Regions from separate parts of the Homo sapiens genome. Here region 2 is reported to be linked to region 1. Evidence: microRNA targets listed by miRTarBase, many of them from high-throughput screens and not tested one by one. Region 1 holds a microRNA gene; the other region holds the end of a gene's coding sequence.
Evidence for each region. Region 1 holds the annotated microRNA hsa-miR-340-3p (UCCGUCUCAGUUACUUUAUAGC, at 1,103-1,124, shown strand). A microRNA usually pairs through its seed, bases 2 to 8, with sites in the 3' UTR of a target mRNA and lowers its output. Matches are read on the target gene's strand: a 7mer-m8 pairs with bases 2 to 8, a 7mer-A1 pairs with bases 2 to 7 and ends in A, and an 8mer does both.

Region 1 (3,000 bases):
TGATATTTACAGCGTTACAGTCTAATTATTCTTCACTCTTTTCAGTCACTGCCTCCTCTGACCGGCCCTTTATTGTGAAGCCTACATTTCCTTTGGCGTGAAACTGGGCCAGAGCTCCTCAGATCCTTAAAAGTCAAGTGTCTGAGGCAGCTTTAGGTCAGGGTCTTTGAGCCCTATCAGGCTTTAGGGGTGGAGTATGGGGAGAAGGCCCTTTCTCCTAGGAGGGGACTCCTATATAACTTTCGCCAGATTCTGTAAAAGATTTAAGACCTAAAACTCCAGTCCTTTGCAAGTTGGTGGCGGGCTTTCGTTCTGCTGTCCTCCTGCCCGATCGGCAGGGTCGGGCTCCTCTGCCCGGCTCTTCTCTGTGCTGGTGTAATGACGCCACCGCGAGCGGCTTCTCTTCCTAGTCCAAAAGGTTCCCCCTTTGCTCCTGAGGGCGTGTGGATTTTTGCATCAAGAGCAGGTAATTTTCTACTCTCTTTAAGAGGTGAAAGGAGCCTGATCATAGTATGTGCTCAATAAATATTGTTGAATGGATGGTTGAAATAATTACACACTTCTTTTCCCAAACAGCTTTCCCGTTGAAATTAGTTGGTGTTCTTATTTAGTGTTCTTTGAATAGAATCACATGGATTGGTTTCCTTGGCTACCTGTTCAGCTTTCCTTTCCCTACTCCTTTCCCTACTCCTTTCCTACTCCTTTTCCTACTCCTTTCCTACTCCTTTCCCTACTCCTTTCCCTACTCCTTTCCTACTCCTTTCCCTACTCCTTTCCTACTCCTTTCCTACTCCTTTCCCTACTCCTTTCCCTACTCCTTTCCCTACTCCTTTCCCTACTCCTTTCCCTACTCCTTTCCCTACTCCTTTCCCTACTCCTTCCCTACTCCTTCCCCTACTCCTTTCCTACTCCTTTCCCTACTCCTTTCCTACTCCTTTCCCTACTCCTTTCCTACTCCTTTCCCTACTCCTTTCCCTACTCCTTTCCCTACTCCTTTTCCAGCTTGAGTCTTCAAGAGGGAGCCTCAACTGATTTCTAAAACCGTTTGTACCTGGTGTGATTATAAAGCAATGAGACTGATTGTCATATGTCGTTTGTGGGATCCGTCTCAGTTACTTTATAGCCATACCTGGTATCTTATACCACAGATCATGGCCCGTTGAACAACATTTTAAGAGATTTCTAAAGGGAAATTTAAAGCGGTTTAGCATTATTTTGTGATTGTCTCTAATTTACTGATCACAACTCTTATTTCAGAAAGGTAATTAGATATTAATTAGATGTTTATTGCTTGCTTTAATTTTATAGTTTTTTGTAGATTTTTAATCGGTATTCTGGTAAACTGCTGTTCTAATAAAGTGGCTGTAACAATTTTGAGTAAGGTAGTAAAAAGGTATATGTTCCATTGGGTTACATTTTCCATAAAACTCCTTTTACTGTTGTATTTCTCTTCTTTTTTTTGAGGGTCTTGCTCTGTCACCCAGGCTGGCGTGCAGTGGCGTGATCTCAGCTCACTGCAGCCTCAACTTCCTGGACTCCAGTGATCCTCCCACCTCAGCCTCCTGAGTATCTGGGACCACAGACATGTGCCACCATGCCTAGCTAATGTTCCTGTTTTTGTGAGAGACAGGGTTTCACCATGTTGCCCAGGCTGGTCTTGGACTCCTGAGCTCAAGCAATCCACCTGCCCTGGCTTCCCAAAGTGCTGGGATTATAGGCATGAGCCACCACGCCCAGCCCTGTTGAATTTCTTTTCAGTTGCGTGTAGTCTTCTGTGACTGCATGTAACACAAAGATGGTTCTTTTAGCTAAATATGGTAAATGAAACATGTAAAACCAAATATTTCAATGTGTTATTCATTGAAGAAGGATTGAAAAGGACAAGTTTTGGGGACTTCTGCTTGATTGTTTTGTTGGTTTACATTGATATGTACAAACCTTATTCAAATTCAAATAAGTGGTTATAATTTTCTCTTTCCCAAAATAAAATATTTATTTCCCTTCTAATGACCCCTAGTCTCTCTCAGGGGCTCTCTGGAGAAGGCAAATGTAGAAGCTACATGTTGCCACCGGCAGCTTCAGCTTATGAAAGGACAATCGCTGATAGATTGATAGAAGTTTCTCTGTTTCCTTAAAAGACAGTGGGAAGTTATTTCCTTTGTGGAGGAGGAAAGGGATAGCAGTTTCCTGCTGTCCATAGGAAGAGGTATTCAATTCCTTCACTGTTACTACTTCTGGAAATTATGTAGGGGAAAGGTCTAGGTAACTATAAGGCAACTTAAGACTGTCCTCGTAATTAACTTGCATAGCCTGTGCTTGTGGGCAGACCTCTGGACAACTGTTAGAGGCTGGAGGTATTTCGATGCCAAACTGGTCCAGAATGTTGAAGCCTGGACCTGTCTCTGGAACGTTTGATTTCCAGAAGAGTTCTGGGGTAAACTAGCAAGGAGCCTCAACTCCACTCAAGTCTGGACATAAGACCCAAGTTAGTTTCAGATGTCACTAATAAAAGGTGGCACCATTTGGCACTTTGTAGCTCTGTTACCAGCTGTGTGTCCCCTGTCTCAGTGAGATTAGAAAGCTTGGTATCCTGTACTTGTTTTTGTTCCTGGCACTAGTTCTACAGACAGTGGGTACTCCATGAATGTTCCTAGATTAGTGCAAGAAGTACCAATTTATGCTATAAAAACAGCACTTTACTCCATTTCTTAAGGAATTAAGACTTTCTGAAGATCATTTTAAAATAGAAAAGGTTTTACAGTGTAAATCTACCATGATGTTGATACACTTCTCTTGCTGTATAATGTTATGTTGCTGTCTGTTGTCACATTTGGCTGGTTTAATAATCTTTTTTTAAAAATGTAGTTGTCAGACAAGTTAATATGGTTCTTAACACTGCAGTCGTTCTATGCCTTATGTCTGTTTAAGTCTTAAGTACCACACAACAAATTACATGTTCCTACTTGGTGCCAGCATACCCAGCTGCATCTACATTTCAGT
Region 2 (3,000 bases), not on the chromosome of region 1:
AATGCTGCCTTTAAAGATGTGGCCCTGGTCCTGACTGTTCTGCTAGAGGAGGAAACATTAGAAGCAAGTGTAGGCCCAAGGGAAACGGAAGAAAAAGTGAGAGACTTACTCTGGGCCAAGTTTACCAACTCTGACACTCCCACCTCCTTCAACCACATGGACTCAGACAAATTGAGTGGGCTGTGGAGCCGAATTTCACACCTGGTACTGCCAGTCCAGCCAGTGAGTAGCATAGAAGAACAGGGGTGCCTTTTCTAAAGCTAAGCACAGAGTTGGTTACAGAAGGTATATGTTTATGAAAAAGTTTGTTTAAAGACCTTCCATTTATATGGAAGGAGGTTGATAAAATAGCTTGAGGAAATAGCCTGAAAAACAAAGATGAGCTTATTTTAGAAACAAGTTTTTATTTTTTATTCCTTGTAAAATCTTTCTAATCTAAGCCTTGACAAAGCTAAAAATTAACCTGACTTTTTTTCTTTGGACCAAATCAGGTTTGAAATATCGATGATATATATGAGAATTTTTTTTAAATTCTAAAATATAGCAACATTGCACAGGAAGATACTCTTACTTCTTAGAGTAACTACAGAGTGATTTTTTTTTTTTCTTGAGTGAGACTCTGAAGAACCTTTTCGATAATGTTTGGACTTGGACTAAAGCAATTAGAATTATGAAGCAATGATAACCTTTAGAAAATTTTTCTATCACATGTTGAATATTTTCAAACCTTACTTTAATAATCTAAAGTTACGGGATTATATCTTATATTAATTTTGCAGTTTTGAGTAGTATGATAAAAGAAATAAGAATTCAAACCATTAAGTACCTACCTAAATACTACATGTAAGGCACTGTGCTTTTATTTCATTCAGCTGAGGTATAAGCAGCTGTACTCAAATGTTCTTAAAAATGAGAACCAGTGGGGAAATTGTTTATAATCATTGGAAATGAAGAAATTCCAATTGGCTATATCTTTACTTCAGCTTTTCTTGAACAATTTACAGCATTGATTTTCAAACTGTGTCTACTGGCACCCTTCCCCTTTGTATCAGAGCAGTTCTGCTTTTAACTGTTTTATATGTTGGGGTTCTCTATGAGATTTCATTGGAACAAAGAGTTTCACTGATATTCGAGTTTGAAAACCATTGATTAAGTGAAAAAACATCTTAGAAGATAGGAAATATGTTTAAAAAATGAATGTATTAAATCTTATGAGTAGGAAGATGAAATACAGGTTTATTGTATAGATACATTATTTATGAAGGATAAAGATCTATACATGAACAGCAGAATGTATAAGCTAGCATTTACTAGCATGTCTCTGATGCTTTTGTTCATTTCTGTTAATCGTCATTTCTGTCCCCTCTGCATGGAATTTTATACTTGTCTAGGGTAAGAGTTTGTAGACTCTTTCAGCAGAACAGATTTTAATAACCAATTTATTTGTTTTATTTTAAAAATTTATTTTTGAATAACCAATTTAATAGTAAATTTTATATGAACATTTGGCATAACTTTACCAGTTTATTTCTATGCAGTGATGGAACATTATGTAATGCAGCTCATTTCTTGACCAACTAGTTATAGAAGTACCATTAGGTTAAAAATTAGAGAAATCTAAGAGATGTTATACTTAGTGAGAGGAAGCAGAAATGGTGGGTAGATTCTCAGAGGTTTTGATGTTCAGTACTGACGGACCATGTTCTGTGATTGTAAGAAAGATTGAAAACAGTTTGTATGGAGATAGAGTTGATTAGCATTTGAGCTCTGAAAGCAGAACTCTAGTAAAATGATCTCGACCTAACAAAGGGTCTGTTCCATTATATAGACTATTACCATAATCCTGGATTATTTCAACTGGGTTTTGGCCTCTCCATTATATGAGATCATATGTATATAGCTAAGAAGTCTGATTAAAGTATGGAAAGATTTTAGGAAACACTAAGAAGATACAGGGATCTTTACTGATACCTAAAAAGATTACAATTGAGTAATTGCTCAATTGAGTGTAGGGGCATACCTGAAGGAAGAATTTGCATTTGGGACTTCGAAGGAAGCTTCCAAGAGATTTGGGAAGAGACCTGAACAAAAAGTTAAAGCATGGTGAATGTGATATCACTGTCAATCCAGTATAAAAGCAGAGGAAGTTGAAGGAAAATCTGTATCCCATATGCACATTTTTTCTGTCTTTTTAGATCTTAGATGCTAGCGTTACATCCACAAAACCAGTGTTGCCTTGTATAACTATTATATTGGCCTGCTGACCTGTGCTACCTCAGATCTGTCAAGGAACCAGTATGTCGCATATTCTTGTTTCTTCATTCAGTTGAATATGGTTTTTCATCATTTCTCTTCAAAATAATTTAGAAAAATAAATTTCTAAAGTCATAATTTTTAATTTAGCCTTTTTAAAAACATTTTCCCTTCCATGTATAGTGCAATCAATTGAGGGTGTTGTCAGTTTTCTGTCTGCTATTTCAAAAGTCTTTTTTTTTTTTTTTTTTTTTTGAGATGGAGTCTCACTCTGACTCCCAGGCTGCAGTGCTGTGGCTTGATCATAGCTCACTGTAGCTTTAAACTCCTGGGCTCAAGCAATCCTCCCACCTTAGCCTCCTGAGTAGCCGGGACTACAAGTGCAGACTACCACACCACTCTACCACACTATTTTGTATAGAGACAGGGTCTTACTGTGTTGCCTAGGCTGGTCTTGAACTCCTGGCCTCAAGTGATCCTCCCACCTCAGCGTCCCAAAGTGTTTGGATTACAGATGTGACCCAATGCACCCAACCAAACTTCTTTTTTTTTTTTTTTTTTTTTTGAGAGAAGGTCTTGCTCTGTCACCCAGGCTGGAATGCAGTGCAGTGGCACAATCTCATCTCACTGTAACCTACACCTCCTGGGTTCAAGTGATTCTTGTGCCTCAGCCTCCCAAGTAGCTGGGATTACAGGCATGCACCACAATGCCCAGCTAATTATTGTATTTTTAATAGAGACGAGGTT

Region 2: miRTarBase lists TOR1AIP2 as a target of hsa-miR-340-3p. The part of its 3' UTR that is shown has no 7-base or 8-base seed match.

Annotation. Positions count from the first base shown.
Region 1 is chr5:180,013,443-180,016,442 of GRCh38, reverse strand. It overlaps MIR340 (microRNA 340), which reads left to right and starts at 1,046; the gene lies at 1,046-1,140. All of the region lies in intron 2 of RNF130 (ring finger protein 130), which reads left to right.
Region 2 is chr1:179,843,329-179,846,328 of GRCh38, reverse strand. TOR1AIP2 (torsin 1A interacting protein 2) reads left to right here. Exons shown (of 7, transcript NM_001199260.2): 7 at 1-3,000. The coding sequence ends at 258. Among named protein-coding and RNA genes, the nearest start is that of LINC02818, 8.2 kb to the right of the region's middle.